Homo sapiens: one gene and its partners. The protein of the gene in region 4 interacts with the protein of the main gene of each other region in a biochemical or structural test. Each region holds a gene or a part of one and is shown on either strand. Other genes may lie near its edges.

Region 1 (3,500 bases), on a different chromosome or scaffold from region 4:
TATGCAGGTTAAAATATAGACTATTTTTCTTTAAGAGAGAAATGTACGAACAGTACCCTTGATTATACCCCTGCAAATAGGGCATTTTCTTAGAGAAGGGGCACATTCCTGGCATACTACCAGATGACCACAAGGAATAAATACAACAGAAACTTCTTTGTCCATACACACTTTACAAGTTCGTTCTTCTTGCAACCTCCTCAATTGTTCTTCCAGTGACAGACCTAATAACAAAAAATAACTTTAGTGAAATTGTTTCCACTTCATTAAAAAAAAAGGGTAATAGTTCATGTTGGTTTTAAATCTTTGTTTTACCTGAAACATCTTCTGTTGGAATATACTTCATATTCTTATCCACTGAGGAAAGAAAACATAAAAACCATTACTCTACTAAATACAAAACTGAGCCACCGCATCTGGCCAGTCCTAAGAATTTCTAAAATAATTTTCCCAACAAACTCACCAAATAAGTTCTTATACAATGTAGAGTCAATTTCTTTTAGACAGTTTTTGAAGATGTTGGCCGCAGCATTTCCTTTAACCAAAATGGTATCAATCAGTTCTCTCGCTTGTAAAGGTATCTGTGTTTTTTGTTTAATAATATCATGTTCCTGTTTATTAATTACATTGGCCTTTAAAAGATTATCCAGGATAGGAAGCACACATGTCAATTGTTGAAAGAGAGCCATTCTGTTCTTCCGAATTAATGACAAATCATCTTCATTAAAAAAAGAAAAAGAAATCCATTAGATTTTAAACTCCTTTAACTATACTCATATAGTCACTAATAACCAACCCTACAAACAATTTAGGCACTAAATAAAGTTCAAAAAAGAACAAAGTAACTTGTTTGCATTTGTAAGTTTGTTGTTTGGAAAACTTCCAGAGGAAGTCTCTGTTTAATTTTTAAGTCTATATATTTACATGTCCTAGAACTCCGCTTTTACTTTATTTTGTTGCAAGAGATTTGTAGAAGACAGTAAAAATTTCCCCCCACCATATATAATAATACTCTTGTATTTCCATTATATCATTTTACTTTTGTAAGCACTTTCATAGTAATTTGTCTCATTTGATACAGTGATCCTGTCAATTAAACAAGGCGAGTATTACTGCCTCTCATTTTTACATAGGGAGAAAAAAGACTCAGAAAAGAATGAGTGGCCTAAGATCACAAGAAAGAATAAGCTGCAGAACCAGGCATCCTAGACCAGTGTTCTTTTCAACACCCCATACTTAAGACGTGGTATTGTAGTATTGTAGGGTTTGAGTTGCCAAGTCAAAACAGACCTAGGTTCCAGTGTTGGCTAGGCCCACTCACTAGCTATGTGTCCTCATCCTTCCCCATACACCTCAGTTTCCTCATCTGTAAAATATACATAACGGTACCTTCCTCAAAGTTGTAAGGATTGAATAATACATGTAAAGCATCTGGCACAATATGTGGTACATAGTTAACTACCATTATTATTTTATAAATGTCTATGTTTATAGCAATTAAAAAAAACTACCTAAGAATCAAGCCTGACCTTTTTTTAAAAAGCCAATGTTTTTCCTTTAATATCGCATCACATAAAACTCCACAGTTAATTTATATTTATGGAATATGGTAGTTCCTTCTTTTGGTATCTGAATCATTATAAAATTTGTCTATTTTCAGACTTTCAAAAAAATTTAAAAAGTACATCTCTACAAAGTACCAGTTTAATGAGAAATAAATTATAAAAACAGAAGCCTATCTTCTTTCCCCTTTTACATCTCTCTAGAAGTGAACTGCTCTATTAATCTCAAAACTATAAAATTCCATTCTGTGACAACTTTTTCTTCTACCTAAATAATTCCTCTCACTGCTAACCAATTTGTTCTTCACCTTTTCAAGATCTCCATGTCATTCCCAATTCTACTTGCACAAGAGCTATCTCCTGGCTTTGCTTCAAACCTCCTATTCTAATCTAGGTAGCAGTCAGGTATTTCAATGAAGTTCTCTATATTAGCACCCTTAACTCATCTTCCGTATTCCTTACTTGCCCTTTCCCCTATTAACACTGCCAAATCTGTAATTCAATACTATTTTCCAACCCATACAAAGTATGAGAAAGTCATAAATCTAAGGTGACAGTGATTTCATATAACCTTAGCTGGATTTCATTACTACTTAACAATCCTTAAATTGACTTTTCTTAGGCCCTTTCTTTCACCAAGTCCCTCCCACTTCCCAAGTCAATCTACCTAATGCTTAAAAAAAAAAAAAAATTGACGTGCTAGGAGCTGTGTTAAAGTGTTTTATTTGCAATATCTCATTTAATTCCTACAGCAACCCTATGGGAGTCATACTATTATTATCCCCATTTTACAGATGAGAAAGCCGATGTCTGGTTGAATAAATAGCCAAGCTAGTAACTGATAGAACTGGAATTTTTTTTTTTTTTTTTTTGAGATGGAGTCTGGCTCTGTCACCCAGGCTGGAGTGCAGGGGCACGATCTCGGCTCACTGCAAGCTCTGCCTCCCGGGTTCACGCCATTCTCCTGCCTCAGCCTCCCGAATAGCTGGGACTACAGGCATCCGCCACCATGCCCGGCTAATTTTTTGTATTTTTAGTCAAGACGGGGTTTCATCGTGTTAGCCAGGATGGTCTCAATTTCCTGACCTTGTGATCCGCCCGTCTTGGCCTCCCAAAGTGCTGGGATTACAGGCATGAGCCACCGCGCCCAGCCTGGAGCTAGAATTTAAACACAAATCTGTTTCAATGTAGAAGTCCAGACTTTAAATATTTTGCTACACGGTCATGCAATAAGGTACTCTTAAGTTATTCCTGTCTTTACTTACAAGCTTAAAAAGAAAGCATCTTCCAACGCAATACTCCAATACATATGCAACCTTCGCCTCTCTGCTGGCCCTTTAACCCTGTCTTTTGCACACTAGTCTCGCCAGCTAGTGTATATACTCCTTGACAGCAACCACTGTGATTAGGCACAGTATTTGGCACTGGTGCTCATGCTCAACAAATATTTATTGAAGGAGGGGAGGAGCCAAGATGGCCGAATAGGAACAGCTCCGGTGTACAGCTCCCAGCGTGAGCGACGCACAAGACGGGTGATTTCTGCATTTCCATCTGAGGTACCGGGTTCATCTCACTAGGGAGTGCCAGACAGTGGGCGCAGGCCAGTGGGTGCGCGCACCGTGTGCAAACCGAAGCAGGGCAAGGCATTGCCACACTTGGGAAGCCCAAGGGGTCAAGGAGTTCCCTTTCCGAGTCAAAGAAAGGGGTAACGGACGCACCTGGAAAATCGGGTCACTCCCACCCGAATATTGCGCTTTTCAGACTGGCTTAAAAAACGGCGAACCAAGAGATTATATCCCACACCTGGCTCGGAGGGTCCTACGCCCACGGAGTCTCGCTGATTGCTAGCACAGCAGTCTGAGATCAAACTGCAAGGCAGCAGCGAGGCTGGGGGAGGGGCGCCCGCCATTGCCCAGGCTTGATTAGGTAAACAAAGCA
Region 2 (3,500 bases), on a different chromosome or scaffold from region 4:
TGGGTTGGGGTGTGTGTGAGGGTGAGGGGTGTGTGTGTGTGAGAGTGTGAGAGCATGTATGAGGGTCAGGGGTGGGGTGTGTGTGAGTGTGTGTGTGAGCACGTGTGTGAGCATGTATGAGGGTGAGGGGTGGGGGTGTGTGTGTGAGGGTGGGTGAGCGTGTGTGAGGGTACAGGGTGGGGGGTGAGTGTGAGAGTGTGGATGGGGGGTGGGGGTGTGTGAATGTGAGGTGGGTGTGTTGTGGGTGTGTGTCAGGGTGTGGGTTGGGGTTGTGAATGTGGGAGGGTGTGGGGTGGCGGTGAGTGTGAGTGTGGGAGGGCATGGGGTGGGGTGTGTGAATGTGGGGTGGAGTGTGAGTGTGGGAGGGTGTTGGGTGTGTGTGTGACTGTGGGGTATGTGTGCGAGTGTTGGGTGTCTGTGTGTGAGGGTGTGTGTGGGTGTGGGTCAGGGTTCAGGGTGGGGGTGAGGGTGAGTGTGGGAGAGTGTGGGGTGGGGGTGTGTGTGTGTGTGAAGGTGAGAGTGTGAATACAGGCACGTCTCAGAGCATGCGGGGTGAACGTGTGTGTAAGTGTATGGAGTGTGTGAGAGGGTGTGGGGGGTGTGTTTGTGTCTGGAGTGTGAGTGTGTGGGTATAAGTGTGAGTCCTTGAGGATGTGTGCACATGTGCACAGGTGGGTCATGTGGCGGGGAGGGAACAGCTAACGTTACCGGGGAAAGCAGCAGAGCCGACTCTCAGTCCCGTCAGGCCCCTGCAGCTGCGCCCACCTCTCTCCCTCCCAGGCGCTGTTCAGACGGCCCTGATCCCTCAGCCCTTCCTCATTCTTCCGCTGTTCAAAAGAAGGGCTCGTTTTCCACATGCCCTACCCTCTCCGCAGAGGAGAGTTCTGGCTGGAGGCTTCCTGTGGGAAGGTCCCACCAGCGCACTGTGCTTTCCTTGTTGTGCGCTGGAGATAAAATAAGCGGGTGGGTGACCCTCTGGGGGTTCCATCCCTCCATGGCCTCCCTCTCAGGCCCTCCATGTGCGTCCACTCTCCAGCCCATGTCTGCCACCCACAGCCGAGGCCCCTGGACCTGGCCCCCAGCGGGGGCTGTGCTCTCCGACCCCAGCTTCTCCCTCAGCCCCTTCTCTGCTGCTTCCTCCTCCCCTGGCTCCATACTTAGCCTCAACAGCATGACCCAACTACCACCACTGTCTCCCAAGAGCCGTCTGCTTCTCTGGCCCTTTCCTCTGTCCCTAAAACCTGCTTCGGTATGGACCCAACTCCTCCCCTCTCCACACTCACGAAGGGGCTGCTCAGCGCTGCTGGAGAGACCCCCCCCACTAAACTCTGCCCATCAGACATCCACAATCCAGCCTCTGCGAGGCCCTCAGAGCTACCTGGCAATAGGACTCCTTGCCCCAAATCATCTCCCCCTCCCTTCATCCTCTTCTTCCAGTCTTCATCACTTCCTCATCACCTCTGACCTTTCCTCCTCAGCAGAGGACCTCAGCCCCTCTGTCTACACAGAATGGCCATTAGCAGAGAACCCTCCTTAATGTTCCCCACCCCACCTACTCCACTCCACACCCACATCCATCCTTGCCTCCACTCAGGGCAGCAGCTCTTCCTCCACAGCAGAGCCTGTAGGACACCACCCACAGCTGCTCCCGACTTGCTGCCCTGCCGGCAGGGCCCTCCTTCCTCCCCAGGGGCTGACAATGGCAGACTCACTTTCTTGCCTCCCTTGCTGTAAGGCCAGAGCACGCGTGTCAGGAACATGGCTGTGCTTTGGTCAAGGATAGGCTGAGGTAAACATCCAGAGTGACTCAGCAAGTTTAGAGCGCAGGCGTATAACTCCACTTGTCATCACAGCCATATAGCCATAACATCGGAAGGCTCATCATTTGGCTCTAAGCCACTGTTGTTTGTAAAAGCTATTATTGCCCTGCTGACACTGTACAGGCATGCTGGCGCCCAGAGAAAGAGCCAAAGCTGTCCATTTTGCAGGTAGACAGGGGGAGCCAGGGCACAGCACAGTTCAGCTCGTGCCCAGAGAGAGAAAGAGTTAAGCTGCTGACCCCGAAGGCAGGGGAGAGTCGGCCATGCAGCTATGTGTGGGAGCTGGCTGCTGAGAGGAGCCACAAAGCCAGAGCAGACAGCTGAGTCAAGGCGGACAGTGTGAGAGAGCTGGTATGAGTCAGCTGCTGAGAGACCTGTTGAGTAAAACTACATTTCACCTGCTTATGGCCCCACGAGTGTTCCTTCAGCTACCTGCCCATCCGCCCACTCCCCTCGAACCTCAGCATGGGCTGGAACCTGACCCCAAGCAGGGCATTTGGTATAGTTGTGAACCTGACAACGTGACCTTGTCCTCCTCAATGGGACATCAGGGGAAATCTGCAGGGACTCATAGGGAGGGTTTTCCTCCCCGACGGAGGGACAAGGGGAGAAAGCTCTGTCTTTGGCCACCTTGAGTTGTGTTTGCAGCTGCCAGAGCCATAAAACCACTGGGGAATCAACCAAGGACACGGTCACTAGTCTAGTGGAGAAAATGACCTGGATCCTTGAGCTGGGTGGGTCCTTGGAAGTCTATTCCTGATCCTTGAAATGAGATAATGTACTCCTCATGGTTCAGGCCATATTTGTTGGGTCATCTGTCACTTGCAGCTGAAGGCATCTTCTCAGCCAAGGCTAACACTTCACAGGTCAGTAGACCGCTCCCCTCCCCAAGGGATCTGCCCTACACTCACCCCTCCATCCTGTAATGTCCACGTCTCTGGCGCTTTTCCTCCTCAGAATATGCAAATATATTTATGCAATCTGCACCTGACCATCTTAAAACAAGCAACAACATCAACAGTCTTCCCTCCCTGCAATCTTCTGCATTCTTGCTTAAGAAGGTGGAGAGGCTGGGTGTGGTGGCTCATGCCTGTAATTCCAGCACTTTGGGAGGCCGAGGTGGGTGGATCACCTGAGGTTAGGAGTTTGAGACCAGCCTGACCAATATGGTGAAATCCCCTCTTTACTAAAAATACAAAAATTAGCCAGGCATGGTGGTGGGTGCCTGTAGTCCCAGCTACTTGGGAGGCTGAGACAGGAGAATTGCTTGAACCTGGAAGGCAGAGATTGCAGTGAGCCGAGATTGCGCCACTGCACTCCAGCCTGGGTGACAGAGTGAGACTGTCTGGAAAAAAAAAGAAGGTGGAGAGGTAACCACAGATTCCCCTGAGAGGCCCCTCAGTAACTAAAGGAAGAGATTCTAATGTAAGGATGAAAAGCCGTCTTTCGGGAGCACTGGGTAAACAGGCCTGCTCCACGGTCTCTGCTCTGCTGCCCTCGGCTCACCCTGATTCTGTGTCTAGGACAGTCACCCTTGTTGCCCAGAGTGATCCTTAAGCGATTTCATGTGTGCGTGTTTGTGTTTTCTCTCTCCAAGGGGCTGCTCTGGCTTCTCCCAGCACTGTGGCCCTGCACACCTGGACGTCCGTATTTTACAATCTCCCAGGCTGATTCTGGCCC
Region 3 (3,500 bases), about 36 Mb from region 4:
TCACCCAGGCTGGAGTGCAGTGGCGTGATCTCTGCTCACTGCAACCTCCATTTCCCGGGTTCAAGCGATTCTCCTGCCTCAGCCTCCTGAGCAGCTGGGATTACAGGCTCATACCACCACACCCAGCTATTTTTTGTATTTTCAGTAGAGACAGGGTTTCACCATATTGGCCAGGCTGGTATGGAACTCCTGACCTCGTGATCCACCCGCCTTGTCCTCCCAAAGTGCTGGGATTACAGGAGTGAACCACAGCACTCAGCCAGAATATTATTAAATATTGATAGATATTTTCTGACATGTATACAATGTAAAGTTTCACAAATGTTCTTGCCCTTATAACCCAGAATTTCATTTTTAATTAGAAATAAAAGGAAAATCAGGGGAAGGGAAATTCTAAATGTCCAGAAGGTGATTTATTCAATTATTTCTAGTATACTTGTAAGTCAAAACACTATCGGCCAGGTGCACTGGCCTGTGCCTGTAGTCCCAGATACTTTGGAGGCTGAGGTGGGAGGACTGCTTGAGCCCAGGAATTCAAGGCCAGCCTGGGCAACACAGTAAGACCTCTTTTCTACAAAAAATAAAAAAAAATTTTTTTTAAATTAACTGGGCATGGTGGTGCATGCCTGTAGTCCCAGCTGCTAGGGGGGCTGAGGCGGGAGGAGTGCTTGAGCCCATGGAGGCTGTACTGAGCTGTGATCGTGCTAGTGCACTCCAGCCTGAGTGACAGCGCTAGACCCTGTGCCCCCCACAAACAAAAAGAACAAAAACCAAAACCAAACAACTCTCCCAAAACAAAAATACTATGCAATTATTAAAATATTCTTTTAGAACAATACTTTAAAAACATTCATAAAGCATTAAAAACAAAAGCAGATACGATAAGGCAGTAGGCCTAAATGCTAAATGTTTTCCTAGCTGTCATCTCTCTAACCTTTTAAGACTGTGATGAGATTTACTTAAACCTTTTCATGCCACAGAAAACACAGGTAGTTCACCATTTTATAATGCTTAATACCAAACCTCAATATAAGGACAGTATAATGAAGGAAAAACATACAAATAAACCAGTGTTTTGTGTGTCTAGCCACAGAATAAATAGAAAAAATAACACAAAGGACCATAGGACTTAGGCCCAGACAACCATGACACTAGCTCACCCATGCCAGGTGCTGTGTCTAACACCTATGATCCTGGCACTTTGGGAGGCCAAGGCGGGAGGATTGCCCTGAGCCCAGGAGTTTGAGACCAGCCTGCGCAACATGGCGAAAGCCTGTCTCTACAAAAAATACAAAAATTAGCTGGGTTTGGTGGCACACACCTATAGTCCCAGCTGCTTGAGAGCCTGAGGTGGGAGGACTGCTTGAGCCTGGGAGGTGGAGAGTGCAGTGAGCGGAGATCATGCCACTGCACTCCAGCCTGGGTGACAGAGAGACCCTGTCTCAGAAACAGGAAACAACAAAACAGCCTATACAACTATGAGCAATGCAATGAATTAACTTGAAGAATTAGACAGACAGGGCTGGGCGCAGTGGCTCACGCCTGTAATTCCAGCACTTTAGGAGGCTGAGGCGGGCGGATCACAAGGTCAGGAGATGGAGACCATCCTAGCTAACACTGTGAAACCCCGTCTCTACTAAAAATACAAAAAATTAGCCAGGCGTGGTGGCGGGGTCCTGTAGTCCCAGCTACTGGGAGGCTGAAGCAGGAGAATGGCATGAACCCGGGAGGCAGAGCTTGCAGTGAGCTGAGATCGCGCCACTGCACTCCAGCCTGGGCGACAGAGCGTCTCAAAAAAAAAAAAAAAAAAGACAGACCTTTATAAAAATCAAGTATTTAATAGGCCATGATAGGTCTGGATTAAAAGGAAATAAAATATCTACAACAAATGATAATAAAAACATTTCAGGTCAAAAGTTATGAGACAAATCTAAAGCAGTGGGAAATTCATAGATTCAAATAGATTTATCCAGAAATAAGAAAATTAAAAACGAATGAGTTAACCATTCAACTCATGAAGCTGGAGACAGCAACACAACAAGCCCCAAGAAAAGCCTGCTCTCCCTAGGCAAAGGATGGCCTATTGAGGCAGAAGACTTTTAGACAATAATCATTCTACTAGTCAACACAGAAACAATTATGGCCAACAGCAAGCGGGGGCCTCCACCTTTGCCCAGCTGTCATACAGTGCCCCAGTCACCACCCCACGGGGATGGAATGAACTTCCACTCCCTCCCAGCAATAATGAGACAAGTCCCCACCCAAGGTGTCAATGGAGTTTGTGCTGGGGAACCCGGACTTCCACCCATGCCTTTCTTGCAGTATCAGAGGAAGCCTGCTAAAACGTAAAATTTACATAGACCGGAGACTCACAAATATACAGGAGACAATGGAAGAATCACCGGTCATACCAAGAACCAGAAAAATCCCAACTTGAACAGGAAAAGACAATCAACAGATGCCAACAACACTATGGATGGATGTTGGATTTGTCTTACAAAGATTTTAAAGCAGCCATCTTAAAAATGCTTCAACAGGCAATTATGAACATACTCAAAGCAAATGAAAAACCAACATGAAAACAGCCAAGTATCAGCCAGGTGTGGTGGCTCACACTTGTAATCCCAGTGCTTTGGGAGGCCAAGGCAGGAGGATCACTTGAGGCTAGGAGTTCAGGACCAGCGTGGGCAACATCGCTAGATCCCATCTCTATTAAAAGAAACACACACACACCCACACACACACACAACCCCACAAAACCCCAGCAAATCTTAGCAAAGAAAATAAATGAACCACTAAGTAGAAATTTTTAGAACTGAAAAATACAGTATCTGTGCTAGAGCAAAAAGGAACCTAGGAAACTAACCTCATGGGCCTTCTCTGGATTAGTTGACTCTTTGGGGCTGGCCCCAGACATGCTCTTCCTCCTCTTTGTACTTCCAGGTGGAGACTCCTCTTGAGATCGTTCTGGTCTCTTCAACACTGACCGAGTGCTGGAGCTACACAGGGAAGGGGAGTCAAACAGCTTGCATCGGTTGTCCTTACAGGAAAAAAAACAGACAGACCCATCTTTCATTAAAACCTGTTCACTTGAATGGTAAGACAAATAAACCGAAGGTTTCCTGGGATGATCTAAGATCAATTCTAAATTAGCCAACAGACACTGCCGATTCATCTAGTCCTAGCAACTCTCACAGGGCCTGGCACATAGTAGGCACTGAGCACTTAGTGCTCAATGAATATATACTCAGCTGACATTATATAGAGATGAGCAAAACGTCCTTTGCCCTCACAAAAACTGTCTACATAATCCTGCGTCAAGAGAAGTGTGACCTTCCAGTCAGGAACACATTTTTGGCTTGCCTATCTTCCCCTCCATTTTATTACTTGCACCTTGCTTAATTAAGCAGGTCAACGGGTTTAAATACCCCACTTAAATCCAGAAAAGATGCACAGTAGCCAGGTTATAATAAAAATGGGGGCATCTTTGGTTAAGGTAT
Region 4 (3,500 bases):
TGTGGAACAAGTATCTTGTCTATACTGTAGTTACACAAAGAGAATATAGTAGGACTTCCCCCCAAAAAATGTCCTTTTTTAGGATATGGGGGCCAAGTGGTTTTATATTATTCTATTATACTGTTCTATTCCAAGCGATGAATTTTAGATTGGGGTTTAGGTCTCATAGAGCCCTCTGCAATTTAAACTATTTTCCAAACAGTTTCTAATAAATTCTAAAGATAGCCTTTGCTTTCTCCCATGAGGAGAATGTAACCGATTTCCAAATTTACCCATAAGGCAGTGTTTTGTGGTGAAAGAGCTGAGGGCTGAGATCCATATATGATGGTTTCTGGTTCTATTTCTGCCACCTACTGGTTCTGCCAAGTGACCCTGCCAAGTCTCTCTACCTGTTCAGATGTGTTTTCTTATATGTAAAATGTAGGTTTTGAACTTGGATTTGTGGTCTTTCCAGCTTTCTGTGATTTTAGGCTTGGATAAAGTATATAGGCTGCTTACCTTTTTCAAATCCAACTTCTAGTCAATTTAGCCTAACTCCTTGTGGAGTAAGAGTGAGCTTCCCCCAGAATCCACCTCCCCACCCTGGCTTTTTAAAAAAAGTTTTGAGCCTCAGTGGAACAAGAATCCCAATCTTTGGAAGGGTCTCAGCTGAGAGTAACTTTGCTAGCTTCCCTTGAAAGAGTATGTTTGTTGTGTACATTGCTTTCTTTTGAGAAAAAGAATGTGGTTTTCATTATATATGAAAAACTAATACCAGGCTTGGCACGGTGGCTCACGCCTGTAATCCCAGCACTTTGGGAGGCCGAGGCGAGAGGATCACCTCAGGTCAGGAGTTCAAGACGAGCCTGGCCAACATGGCGAAGCCCTGTCTCTACTAAAAATGCAAAAATTAGCCGGGCGTGCTGGTGCACACCTGTAATCCCAGCTACTCGGGAGACTGAGGCAGGAGAATTGCTTGAACCTGGGAGGTGGAATATTAAATCCTTCTAATATTTAATGAAAAATCAGCCTTGGAGATACTGGCCACTGATATTTGCTGAATTTAATCAAGGAACGTTGATTAGAGTATGTTTAGGATTTCTATGGTTTTTAGAGGTTTTTATAATCTATTTTGTTCTTGCACATCCTCCTCCTCTTTTTTCCCTCCCCCAGAGAAAATCTTTTGTGTGTAGGAGTTGACCAGCTTTCCTTTTCTGTTTCAGGATGCAATTCGAAGTCACAGCGAATCAGGTACTTTTCCATAGTCATTTAGCCAACAATAATGGGCTTTTTTTCTTTATGCGGTGTATCTTCTGTTGGCTTATCCTTGTGTGGCTTCTGTTTGTCTTGTCTATTAAGCCTCACCTTCAGCCCTGTCCAGTAGCCCCAACAATCTGAGCCCAACAGGCTGGTCACAGCCGAAAACCCCCGTGCCAGCACAAAGAGAGCGGGCACCAGTATCTGGGACCCAGGAGAAAAACAAAATTGTGAGTATAGACAACAGTACCTCCTGCCAATTAGGGTTCAGTAAGAAAAACCTCGTTGGAAATTAGAATACTTAAACTTATTTTGGGAGAAGATTCTAATAAAATACATTCAATGAAGGAGATTATAAATGTTACTGTCATTTTTGGCACACTTGCATCAGACAGTTTGCCAGTGCTATAACTAAAATGGTATTTCTCAAAAGACAAAAATTGGAAGTATGGTTAATATGTTTATCTTTAAAAGATATGGAAACAGATGACATGGGTTGATCCTTTGATGCCCTCATTATCAAAAGATTATTACCATTGCATGGAGTATAATAATGATCTCTACTTGTTTCAGAGGCCTCGTGGACAGAGAGATTCAAGCTATTATTGGGAAATAGAAGCCAGTGAAGTGATGCTGTCCACTCGGATTGGGTCAGGCTCTTTTGGAACTGTTTATAAGGGTAAATGGCACGGTAAGCTTGGGGCCCTCCCTTTACTAACTGCAGGGCTTTGGTGTGAAGTCAAGTTTCAGCCCAGGGGGCCAGGAGGAGGAGAGGACTGAGTGCTCCTGGGCTTATAGCAGTACTCTCCCTTACATACTTGATTATACCTGAAGATTGAACTTAATTCTTTTTAGACTAAGTTCTTATAAAGCTCCCAGGATAATTAGAAATTAGTGAATAAGACTTGAGCCCTATAATCAAATGTCAGGAGTACTTCTCCTTTAAACTGATTAAATACAGTCTGCACATGGGTCATGCTTGGAAGCTCCTTAAGTGAGCAAGAGTCTGCTGCTATGGAGGGAGCATGGGTTCTAGAAACTTTAAGCTGGAAAGGACCTTAGAGATTGAAATGGGGACTGATTTGCCCATGGTCATGCAGTTAGGCATAGGAAAGCTGGAAATCTCCTGAAGTAACTTCTCTTTGTCCTGCCCTAGGATTAGCTGTGGGTGTCCCTATCAAACAGGGAAGGCATTGACTTAATTCTTGAATCTATGTGGAATATTAATGTTCTGATTTTAATGGAAACACTTTGTCACTTGGAAGAAAGGTACTATTTAACTTATGTAGTTACAGCTTGTGTATTTTGGCAACACTGAACATTTTGGCAACATACTTAGCATTTCTCTGTTAGGTTTTTAATGCCTCTGGCTTTAGGACTTTGGGAAATAATAGGTATTTCCTTGAAAATGCTGCATGTTCCCAAAAAGTCATCTCTTCTAAATTCAGATTACAATAAAGCAAAAATCACAGAGTCCCTTGGTGCCTATACTACTTTGGATGACACTGGAATTATCTTTAGAGATAAATGTGCAAAGATTGAGAGAAGTTAAAAGCATCAAATGAATGGAGTATTAAAATTCAAGGTACTGAAAATATCAAACACCTCCAGTTTTGAGTACTTGGTGGTTTTTTTTTTTTTTTTTTTTTTTTTTTTGAGATAGATTCTTGCTCTGTTGCCCAGGCTGGAGTACAGTGGCACAATCACAGCTCACTGCAGCCTCCAACTCTTGGGCTCAAACAGTCCTCCTGCCTAAGCCTCCCAAGTAGCTGGGACCACAGGTGAATGCCCAGCTAATTTGTTTTACCTTTTGTAGAGACAAGGTCTCACTATGTTGCCCAGGCTGGTCTCCAACTCCTGGACTCAAGCAGTCCTCTTGGGTCTCTCAAAATGCTGGGATTACAGGCATGAGCCACTGTGCCCAGCCTTACCATGTGCTCGTTAATGCATGGTTTTTACCACTTGTAATTAATCATCTGACCAATTTCTAGTTCCTTAAGAGGATTGGCACCCGACTGAACATTTGTAAAGTACATGTGGAATGATTCCTTTTCCTTTGAAAATTGCATCTGGCTGGGCAGGGTGGCTCACGCCTGTCATCCCAGCACTTTGGGAGGCTGAGGCAGGCAGAACACTTGAGCCTAGGAGTTCAAGAACAGCTTGGGCAACATCGTGAAACCCCATCTCTACCAAAAATTAGGTAGATGTGATGGCACTCGCCTGTAGTCCCAGCTACTTGGAAGGCTGAGGCAGGAAGATTGCTT
Region 5 (3,500 bases), on a different chromosome or scaffold from region 4:
CCAGACTGTCCCTCCTCTATCAGCCTGCAGCCTTTCTTCCATTTCATTAAAGTGTTTTAGGACAGGGAGGACCTTGACCAACCTAGCCCATCTCTTATTTAGAGGTGAGGAAGATGACACCAGAGGCCTCAAGGCTTCCAGAGCACCTGGCTGCACCCTCAGCCTCTGCTGGGGGCTTCCCACCATACAAGCTACTTGCACAGTTTTCTTTTCATTCAGCCTGTGCTTGGGAGTGAGCATGGCCACTCAGAACCAGGCAGCTGCTTTCGTGTGAACAGTTGATTCGGGGGCTATCCAGTGAGGTGAGGGACGGGATGTGTGGCAAGAAGGTCTAAGCACTGCACACGAGGGGACAGCCAGCCTCGCTCTTGCGTCCTAGAGGTTTCCAGGTTCATGCTCACTCCCTGATGGCAGAGGGCAGGTTGCCAGCCTGGCTCTACATGGCAGAAAGCCACTTCCCTGCAAGCGTTAAGTCCTTCTGTCTTACTCTATTGCTTTTCTCCAAAAATAAAGCATTTTTGAGAGCTAAATCCGGGGATTGACTTTCAGATTAACAATCTGCGCGGCCTTTCCTCCTTTCCAATCCTTAGTCATGTTTATCTTTGGGGAACCTAGAATGTACCAGGAAACACACAACACAGCTTAGAAAGAGAAAGTGGGGGCTCTCTGGAACTCCAGACAAGGAGAGAGTCCTGCGGCTCTGGGAAACAGACAAGCAGACAAAATGCAGAGAAGGATTTTGCTTTGGAAAAAAGAGAAATTCAACAGACATTAGTAGGACCCAAAAGGGAGAGATGCAGGGAGGAATGCAAGGGTCTTTCTTGTTAGCTGCTGGGGCAGAACGGCCTGTGTGCAACCCCCCATCGCTCCACATTCAGGGAGGATCCGGCACGACGGCCCCAAAGTCCACTCCTAGAAAATTAAGAGCAGATAAAGCAGTAGCTAAAATAAGATTTCTGGGTCAAAAATGAATTTCATTCTTCTATCATCTTTGTCTCCTGCTGGCATAGAAAATAAAAAATTAATTGTGAGTACTAGTCCATGTACATTTGCTACATGATTGTCATCGTTTTGCAAATTCATTAGGTCAGAAAAAGCAAGTCAAATATGCATTAATGGAAAACGTTTCGGTAAATATCTTAGTTCATAATTCAGTGTAATCATGTGTGGGACTGATCTGGGATCCTCATGGTCTCTCAAGTACCCTGCCCCTTCCTCCCTCTCTTCCTTCCTCTTCCCCACCTTCTGTTTTCTTTCCCTGTTCTTTCTTCCTGTTCTTTCTCCTTGTTGTTTTTCTTTTAAAATGTATTCATTCATTTATATGATGCTTATTAATTGAGCAGAAAGTGTAGGTAGGCTCTGTTCTAGCGTATGAGAGCATTGCAGTTTCGGAGACAGACACAACCTATCTACAATACGTTGGTGGTTATTCCTCCATTTTATTCTAAAATTATAACTTTTATACAGTAAGAATCATATCTGGTATTTGCTAGTAACTAAAGTCTGTAAGTTTGGTTAGAATATAATGATTGGCATTTTAATTTGGCTCAGACACCAAATTTTTTCACTAGAAAGTTCAAATTGGCCATTTTAAACCTTCCTTGAAAGTTTGCTTTCAGTATTAACCAGCCTAAAATTCCTAAGGAAGATTTTCTGGATGGCTTGATATCTATGTTTTAATTATTATTTAAACACATACAAAACAAAAATCTTTGGATTAATGAGGTTATTATAAATCGAGCAACTCTATTTAGCCTCTTTTTCTGTTCATCAGCAGAATCATTTTCCCAGTGTCAGCATCTGGGGTCACTGAGACGGGCCAGCCAGTCCCACTTCCACATGCGGGTTCCTGGGGCTTCTCGCACTGGTTGTGTTGGAGGAAGTTAAACATTTTCTCGGACGTGGTGTTGCTCCCTCCCTGGGAGGGAGACCAGTCACGTCGCCTGGGAACCCTCTGGGAGAAGAGGATCTGGCCTTGCAGGGCTGGGTCCCCGGCACAGAAGCAAGAGACCAGACCTTCCGGAAGGGAAGACCACGTTTCATTTCCCCAGTGGAAGACAAGGCGGCCCGATCCCAGCTGTGGGCAGAGAGGTCTCGAGAGGAGAGAAAAGGAGGCCAGGAAGCAACCGAAACAGAGCAGAACACAAAAGTTGCGGGGCTGTGAGGACTGGGACGGAAGAGGAAGCCGATGGAAGTGCGTTCGTCACCTACCCAGCTAAATCTGCTCAGGGACAGTCCTCTCCCCTGCATGAGGAAGACAGAGAAATAATGACATGGTGGTCAGTGAAGGGAAAGTCCTTTCAATCAACAGGAAACACAGTCAAAGCACAGTGGAGCTGAGGTGGTAAAAACAGGTTCCACCCGGAGCTCCGAGGGGGGCCGCAGGCTCAGGGCCACAGCGGCTGTGCAGGTGCGGGAGGGACAGGAGGGGTGCATGGATCTGCCGACCTGTTCTACTTGGGAGCTGCCTGGCAACACGTTTTGGGATGGATTCTGGTAGCTCGGAGCCTAACTCTCTCTTTGGTACATTATGGGATTTTAGAGAAGGTCTATCAGAAAAGTGATGATCAATCAAAACATTCCAAGGTCTTACCTTTCCCTGCGACGGGGGTGGTGTGCGAGGCGTCACCTGGAAAGACACAGAGAACCGTGGGCTGCACTGGGAGCCCTGTGCCGCCGTCCATTTCCTAACGGGCTCCTGCCTGCTGAGGGTGGCTAGCATCCATCAGCTGCCAGAAGCACCCGGGTGCCCAGCCTCCCCACTTCTGTCCTAGTTGGTGAAGAAGTATAGACCTGAGATTGAAAATATTCTAGATGATGCAGATCTCCCAGAGCACTCAGGAAGTGTTTCAGAGGATGGAAAACACCTCCCAGAGGCTCCGTAGCTGGGGAATGGGCCCATCTTGGGACACTGAGGGAGGCGGCGGACTTTGCTTCACCGTGAGCCCTTTCCGGGGCTAGGAGTAGCGGGCCCTCTGACATTCAGAGCTTCCAAGGGGATGTCCCCAGGTCTGCAGCTCCTAAGTGCACTTATCGAATACGAGCATAAAATGTCTGCTGCACTGAGATCTTGGAATTAGAAGCCTGTGGTTTTGTTCTTGTTTTTAATCGTCTTCGTTTTGCATGGCACTTTTCGGTTTACAGAAAAACTGTGCAGAAATTAGTTTCCACATACCCCGAACAGTTTCCCTTATTAGCAACACTGCCTTAGGGCTCTCTCGGTGCTGTGCACGCTGTGGGTTTGGACAAGTGCGTGGTCTTCAGTCACCATGGCAGCCTCGACAGAGCGGTTTCGCTGCCCGAAAAATGCCCTAAAAATGCCCTGTGCTCTCTCTGCTGCCCCCTCCGCTCCCAGCCCATGGCAAGCACTCTCCATAGGTTGCAAAGCCTGTGTTTTTAGGCTAAGCGTTACATGGGAGCCTAATCTCAAGAGAAGTGAGCTCTCTGGAGAACGCACGGAGCGCACGGTGCAATCCGTGGCAGATACAGTCGGGAAGCGC
Region 6 (3,500 bases), on a different chromosome or scaffold from region 4:
AGTGAAAATAAAATTCAGAGGCATCCATTTTAAATTAATATATTTGAAATTTTTTTAATTAAAAAAACAAAATTTCTAAAAATTAAAGTAACCAAATCTATAATCTGAAAACAAATGTTAGCCATGCACCACAGTGTCCTTACTTTGTCTATTCTTAATGGAAGCTAATTCTTCTAGAACGGTCTGGTCTGTAGATCTGGCAAAGGCCTCTGCTGTGGCACAGTACCCATGGTGGACTAAATAAGATGAAACCATTCTTAAAATAAAAAGAAGAAACATACATCTTTTAGTGAAGAGAATACATGCTTCATACTACAATTTATATAAACAAAATCTATTCTGGTGTTATAAAAACGAACCTATTTCCTTGAAACAAGGCGTTAAGAACCTCACCTTTAAAGTAAGCTTTTGAAAAACATCATTTTGTTCTATTCATGTACTATTTTCGAAAAGATAACTGCAAATGCTATGTTGAGACTACTCTCCCTAAAATAAATATTACTTGAGAATCAAGGACATTAAATGACCTTTTCTTTGATTCTTGGACTCTCATTACCCCCAGGTCCCTTCCTATCTTATTATTCAGCCCTACTAACCATAATTTCTATTTTGACTTTATCATATGACTTATTCCAGTATTGCTGGCATTCTGTAAAATAACCAACTTTAAAATAAAAGATTAACTCTTAATGTTCCAGAGTTCAACCATCTTCTTTACACACCGGTTAAATGAAGTGGGATCACAAAGTATGTACAGAATACTAAGGTGAATCCAGAGAGACAATCTTCCAGAACATGTCTATAAGTGTACTACTAATTAAAGGAGGAATCAGCCTTCTAATCTAAATCAATTACTATGGTTTTACCCAAGAGATTTATCAAATATGGTTTACATGTAAGTGACACATTTCCAAGACAATAATCTTTTAAAAACGTACCAGGTAGTCAAAACATATACTTACATCTACCCACAAGATGTGGTTAGAAAAACTGGTGATGCAACAATATTAACCCAAATATCTGTTATCTCCAAACAGTCAATTTTTAAACTTGCCTCCACCTGACACTACTAAGGGCCAGTTAGAAAATCGTGGGAAGCAGTGGTTCACCACAGGAGGAGACTGAGGCAAAGAGCGGAGGGAGAAAAGGGAGGAAAATGTCTAAGAAACAGATCTGCATCTTATTTTACCCAATTGTTCAAATTAATTTAAGGGGGAGGGGACCTTTTAGAATGGACTTCTCAAGAGTTCATGGTGAACATCAAGTCAGTGAAGAAGTGGGTGGAAGGATCCTGGTTATAAGGTTAAGATAAATGTTTTCTACTATCTTGCCATGATACTCAGTGGTAACCATTTTCAGAGCATTAAAACAGTGTGGCCCCAGAACAACCCATTCTAGCTTCACTTCGTGGTGACTATAGGATTCTGCATCAGGGTTGTCTATTCTCAACTGGGCTGGACAAAAAAACTAGTGTCCAATCTCTGTAATACAGATGATAATAGCTCCAGGGACGAAGTGTGATTTCAGAGTCATCATCATGTCTCCCAATCACTTCCTTTTCTAAAAAATACCCCCAACATTTTATTACAATTTTAAAGTTAAGAATATTCAAAGCAATTATAAGGACATTAAAGATGAAATGTGTTGGACCAACTGTATCTGAAAGTCTGCTATTTTCTTGACCTGGATTATAATAGTGAAGAGGACTTTTTAAATTTAATGGTATTTATTTAAATTTTAAGTCCATACTTAACTACTGCTGATAGTTCAGATATTAAGAGCTTGGACATAGCCAAGTTCATGACCAAAAACCACAGATCCTGATTATAAGATCTAGATTATCTCTCAACTTTATCTTTTCCATTAACATTATTAAAAGTTAAATTGTATAACCTACAGAAATCATTAAATCCTATTACTAAGAATAGCAAATGAATTAACCTAGCCTAGGTGACCTAACATCATTTTATTTCCTTCATCAAATTAATTCAGACTGAAATACAATTCTGTACGTGTGTCAAACAATTGTTTTTAATTTGTTTAAATAGTGGAGTAAATTACTTTTCGTTGAGAGATTAAAATCAATAATATAATAGATATGTCAGTATATAAATTAGTGGATTAAAAAGCTTCTGTGGATACCAACAGAATAAATGTCTTATAAAAAACAGATTCTGAATAGCATCAATTGAAATTTCTTCACTCTTACTTTTGTATCATGGTCTGCCATTCTCCTTCTCGATCTCCGATAGGAAATCGATCTATCTGTGCCTGGATTTTGGTTCTCCACTCCCGCATATAGTCTTCTATATCAAACACGAAAGGATGTTGCCCAAAATTGGCATCGACCACTTCTCCTGGTGTTTGAAGCCCCACAGTAGGATACAAATTTGGCTGTAAGATAGCATATTTCATTAAACATCTATCCATTTTATGTTAGATTTAATAATTCTTTTAATGTTACATTTAAAAGAATAGAACTATAAATTTACTTCATATTTTAAAATCCCAATCAAAATATTAGAAGGCTAAAACAAATGATCTAAAATACATTATATGTTAGATGAAAAAATATCACTTCCTGCAATGTAATCATCAAGAAAAAACAAAGAGACCCAAGATCTCTGTTTTATTTATTCAGGGACTACGTTGTATTATACCACGTGGTATTATGCTACTAATATATGTGCATGTAATTCTTGTTCTAAGATTATGTCATATAGTAGTTACAGAAATTCAACTATAAACACATAACTCAGGTTTATCCCACATTTTATATATGATACATTTCTATAAACTGCATGTTAAAGCTAGTTATCATAAAAGTATGATCTCAGCTAGTCTGGCATTTAATAGCTTAAATTTACTGTTTTCATTCTGTATATTTGGGATGCCTAACTTTACAAAGGGAAGGGGATAAGACCATAACTATAAGCAAAACACAGTGCCAGGAAGAGTGGAGATTCTCTATATTAAAAAAAAAACACAAAACCTCAAATATATGTATTTCAAGGGAGGAAAAGGATGAATCTGAATATACCCAAACTCAGAAATGCATTCAGGTACACTCCATGGTTTCAAGGTTAATCAAGATGAAAAGGTGATAACTTCAAGTAAACAAAAAATACAGGGGTCATTCTTTTGGCTATGTCACTAATTGGTTGTTACATCTAAAGGCAGAATGAGTTTCTGAGTGGCTACTAAATGCCAGGGTTTAATCATAATTCTGTGAGGCCACTATTATTATTTCTACTTCAAAGACAGAGAAAATGAGGATTCAAGGTTAAATAACTTGCTCATGGTCGTTCTGCTAACAAATGGCAGAGATGGAATTGGAACACAAGTTTGTCTGATACCACATCCAAAACTGATTTTTCCTCTTGCAACTCCAAATCCTACCATATTTTCATTTTCTGTATTTATGTCTTATATCTTTAATAGTTATAACAAGTATTTTTCAGTACAAAACAAGGTAAAGATCAAGAGCGGATAATTTCTGT
Region 7 (3,500 bases), on a different chromosome or scaffold from region 4:
AGGAAACATGTGCTCTCTCCATCCTCCACCCTTCCTTTCCCCTCAGTGTACTCTTTTGAGCCCTTGGGTCCACCCTTCTTCCCTATCCTTGCCTGAACCTTTACTGTCTAGCTCAGTGCAATACTGTGCTTGCTTTTTTTTCCTCTTTTTTTCTCTTTCTGCTACAGAACATCCTTTCTGGGCTGTGGTTGGTAACTTTTTATAATTTCAGGAGAGAGACTGTTTTCTTTTCTGGCAAATTGCTGAGGCTGTGTTGATAAGTGAACGCATACATAGTTCTGTACATAACTGTAGTATTAACTGTCTAACTTCTCTTGCCTTCTGAACAAGCATGGTATTGGCACTTCATGCTGTTTGTTTTTTGGCTTGGGTATAGACTTAAAATGCCCCAATCCTTCTCTTGCCCCCAGTAATACCTCAACTACTGGTGGTTGTATAAAAGGCACTGGACTCTGAAGATAGAGACCTTGTCTTTATGGAGTATCTTTATGGAGTACTTAGTAGGTGCTTCATACATGATCACTGAACAAATGAGTGAGTGAAATCAAGAGAGCAAGGACAATTGGCTGAAGGGTTTCAAGTAGTGGGAATGAGGCTTTGCATGGTGAACAACACAGATCAAACTGGATGGCTTTGCATACTACATAAAACCTGGAGGGCTTTGCATAGCATGTAAAGAAACTATGGAATCCTGTAAGCAGCAGGGAGCCATTTAATTTATATGTTCTCTAGAGGTATAATTCATATATGTACAAAAAAGTGTACAGATCTTAAGTGTACAGCCTGATGGGTTTTTACTTATGTAAATTAACTGTGTAGTTGCTGCTCAGATCCAGAGACTATTTCCAGAACCCCAGCTTTTGTCTTGATTCACAACGTTTGGATACCAAATCCCAGAGGTCGTGTGGTTGGTCTGAAGTGTAACTAGGACTGGAATTATTACAGCTACTCCTGAGCTTAGCAAATCTTTATACTTGAGTAAAAAACACTAATTCAGACCATTTAACTGCATGACAAAAACAATAGTTATTATTATGGTTGACATTTATTAATCAGCATGCCTTGGCACTTCATATGCATTATTTCATTTTACCTGCTTCACAGGATTTTGTTCCTGTCTCTGTTTTACAGATGCTGAAGATTAGACATGTAAAGTGATTTGCCTTAGGTCCCACAGCTAGGGAATAGCAGAGTTAGAATTAAACCCACGACACTTCATCACGGGGACTGATTACTTATTGGTGATCTGTTGCCTCAAATATCTGGTACCCAAGTTTAACAAAAATGTTGCCTTTTTGGTGAGAGGTGATGCCTGTATTTGTTACCTGCACACAGTGAATGCTCTTAGGGATATTCTGACCTATGGATTCTTAGAATTTTGAGAGGGAAAGAGGTTTTTGATTCTATGATAGGCAGTTCCCAGAGTGATGTTTCGTTGGAGGAGGATTGTTTCAATGTGGATGGCTCTTTACAATTTACGTGTAGCCAGTAGATGATGGTCTCTGTAGACAAAGTATGAAGATAGGACACAGCAAAGATTGGGTGTGAACCTAAATATCCAAAAATCCCAACAATGAATTTGTCTTAAAAATTAATATGAGTGGAAATAAATGCATGTAGCAGTATGGCAAAATTCTTGTAATACTAAGATTGTGTTTCAAGAGTTAAGACATCCAAAGAAATGTCCATAGCGAGTAGAGGTAAAACAGTTTATTATACTGGACTTCAAAGTTGCAACAATCTTTTATATAACAATCAAACCAACAATCTTTTGTGCATGTTAATATCTTAATCTCACAACGCCAAGAACTGTCACATTTAAAGAATTCTAGCTATTGTGCATGGCTTGGCATTTGTAAAAAATGTATTTAACATTTGTTTATTATATTTTAGGCCAAATCAGTAGGGACAGTGTAGCACTTTTAGGCATCAGCTGGGAGTAGTCAGTGAAATTCAGGTTTTACAAGATATAAAAGCATGGCATATGGGGAAACATGTTTCAAGAAATGAATCTTAAAAAGTACAGCGCATGCTTTATCCAATTTGCTTGTGAAAGACTGCTGATTCCTGTTGTTTAAAATAGTGGGTGTAGAGAATATTGTTGCCAGTAAAATTTATTTACTTTTTGAAGTGGCATGGGTGCCAAAAAGTAAGTTCATGATTGTTTTGATACCTGCTTTTTTTTTTTTTTAAGGCTAGTTAAGTGAATTGATACCTGTTTATTTTTAAATGGTGATGGAGTGGTGGAGGAGATGGCTTCCTACTAAAAGTTACTGCTGTTGGTGAACATTTCTTTTACAGACTTTGTTCAATACATCATGCATTGAAGTGAAACATCAAAAAACAAATAGGATTATAGATATGGAATTCTGTGATTAAAGTTAAACATTTTAATTTTAATTTAAAAAAAATTTTTTTAAGAGACAGGGTGTTATTCTGTCTTCCAGGCTGGAGCGCAGTGTGGCATGATCATACCTCACTGTAACCTCGAACTCCTGGGCTCAAGCAGTTCTTCTGTCTCAGCCTCCGGAGTAACTAGGACTACAGGTGTACACCACCACATCTGGCTAAGTCTTAAATTTTTCGTGGAGATGCGGTCTCACCTTGTTGCCCAGGCTAGTCTGGAACTCCTGGGCTCAAGTAATTTTCACAAAGTGTTAGGATTACAGGCATGAGCCACCATGCCTGGCTTTAAAGTTATTCTTAAGACTTAAATAAAATGTGGAAAGTGTCCTTCAAAAAAAATATGTAAAGTCATGGTATCAGGCAGATTAATATATCTCCTCCCAAAACCAGGGGATTCTTTTCTGTCCTCTTCAAGAGTGCTTGTTTCTGAGTAGCTCTCTGGTGTTTGCATAGGTCGCCACGAATGTTGGGTCCCAAGAGCCAGGAACCCTTGCCTGAAGAAGGCTAAATACTCTTGATGCTGGTTCCTAGCATTAAGCTGTCTCCTTCCAAATCATTCCTTCAGATTTTGTAATGAGCCAGTGGGAAAATGGGCTTTGAGGAAGTCAGTCCAAAGTAGATCAAAGGAGATACTCAGAACAAATGGAGGATGATGTTGGTGTCCTGGTTAGTGCCCTTCTGTAAGAAGAGGGAAATGCACTCTCTCAGATTATTGTTGTTATCTTTTTTAAACCTTTTTCTTTTTTGGAGACAGGGTCTCATCCTGTCACCAAGGCTAGAGTGCAGAGTGGTATGATCATGGCTCACTGCAGCCTTGACCTTCTGGGCTCAGGTGATCCTTTCACCTCAGCCTCCTGAGTAGCTGATTTTTTAAAACCCTTTTAAATAAAACTGAAATGTAGGCTGAGATTCTTCCCTTCTTACTTGGATACTTTAACTGTCCCCCCCCTTTTTTTTATGGTAATGACTTCGGTAGTTGGGAGGGTTTGATCAGAGAAGAGAGGAATAGAATTTAAGATAAAAAAACAACAAAAGATGTCAGTGAAAGAGTAAGTTTGAGGTTCCTACTAATGAAAAAATTTCAAAATGATATT

The links.
Region 1: the proteins of RAF1 (region 4) and BIRC2 form a complex in vitro, tested with the Homo sapiens proteins (one study listed by BioGRID).
Region 2: the proteins of RAF1 (region 4) and GNG4 form a complex in vitro, tested with the Homo sapiens proteins (one study listed by BioGRID).
Region 3: the proteins of RAF1 (region 4) and CDC25A form a complex in vitro, tested with the Homo sapiens proteins (one study listed by BioGRID).
Region 5: of the proteins of RAF1 (region 4) and MBP, one has a biochemical effect on the other in vitro, tested with the Homo sapiens proteins (one study listed by BioGRID).
Region 6: the proteins of RAF1 (region 4) and RANBP9 form a complex in vitro, tested with the Homo sapiens proteins (one study listed by BioGRID).
Region 7: the proteins of RAF1 (region 4) and RRAS2 form a complex in vitro, tested with the Homo sapiens proteins (one study listed by BioGRID).

The regions. Positions count from the first base shown.
Region 1 is NC_000011.10:102,374,714-102,378,213, reverse strand, and holds part of BIRC2 (baculoviral IAP repeat-containing protein 2), read right to left. Parts: intron 719-3,500; coding exon 464-718; intron 358-463; coding exon 316-357; intron 225-315; coding exon 31-224; 3' UTR 1-30. UniProt on the Homo sapiens protein: Multi-functional protein which regulates not only caspases and apoptosis, but also modulates inflammatory signaling and immunity, mitogenic kinase signaling, and cell proliferation, as well as cell invasion and metastasis.
Region 2 is NC_000001.11:235,587,285-235,590,784, forward strand, and holds part of GNG4 (guanine nucleotide-binding protein G(I)/G(S)/G(O) subunit gamma-4), read right to left. Parts: intron 1,784-3,500; exon of another isoform or gene 1,713-1,783; intron 1-1,712. UniProt on the Homo sapiens protein: Guanine nucleotide-binding proteins (G proteins) are involved as a modulator or transducer in various transmembrane signaling systems.
Region 3 is NC_000003.12:48,171,418-48,174,917, forward strand, and holds part of CDC25A (M-phase inducer phosphatase 1), read right to left. Parts: intron 3,041-3,500; coding exon 2,867-3,040; intron 1-2,866. UniProt on the Homo sapiens protein: Tyrosine protein phosphatase which functions as a dosage-dependent inducer of mitotic progression. Directly dephosphorylates CDK1 and stimulates its kinase activity. Also dephosphorylates CDK2 in complex with cyclin-E, in vitro.
Region 4 is NC_000003.12:12,598,118-12,601,617, reverse strand, and holds part of RAF1 (RAF proto-oncogene serine/threonine-protein kinase), read left to right. Parts: intron 1-1,202; coding exon 1,203-1,230; intron 1,231-1,338; coding exon 1,339-1,466; intron 1,467-1,809; coding exon 1,810-1,927; intron 1,928-2,392; exon of another isoform or gene 2,393-2,505; intron 2,506-3,500. UniProt on the Homo sapiens protein: Serine/threonine-protein kinase that acts as a regulatory link between the membrane-associated Ras GTPases and the MAPK/ERK cascade, and this critical regulatory link functions as a switch determining cell fate decisions including proliferation, differentiation, apoptosis, survival and oncogenic transformation.
Region 5 is NC_000018.10:76,986,284-76,989,783, forward strand, and holds part of MBP (Golli-MBP), read right to left. Parts: intron 2,630-3,500; coding exon 2,594-2,629; intron 2,245-2,593; coding exon 2,212-2,244; coding exon of another isoform or gene 1,807-2,211; exon of another isoform or gene 1,420-1,806; intron 1-1,419. UniProt on the Homo sapiens protein: The classic group of MBP isoforms (isoform 4-isoform 14) are with PLP the most abundant protein components of the myelin membrane in the CNS. They have a role in both its formation and stabilization.
Region 6 is NC_000006.12:13,642,336-13,645,835, forward strand, and holds part of RANBP9 (ran-binding protein 9), read right to left. Parts: intron 2,395-3,500; coding exon 2,210-2,394; intron 257-2,209; coding exon 144-256; intron 1-143. UniProt on the Homo sapiens protein: May act as scaffolding protein, and as adapter protein to couple membrane receptors to intracellular signaling pathways. Acts as a mediator of cell spreading and actin cytoskeleton rearrangement.
Region 7 is NC_000011.10:14,296,684-14,300,183, reverse strand, and holds part of RRAS2 (ras-related protein R-Ras2), read left to right. Parts: intron 1-3,500. UniProt on the Homo sapiens protein: GTP-binding protein with GTPase activity, involved in the regulation of MAPK signaling pathway and thereby controlling multiple cellular processes. Regulates craniofacial development.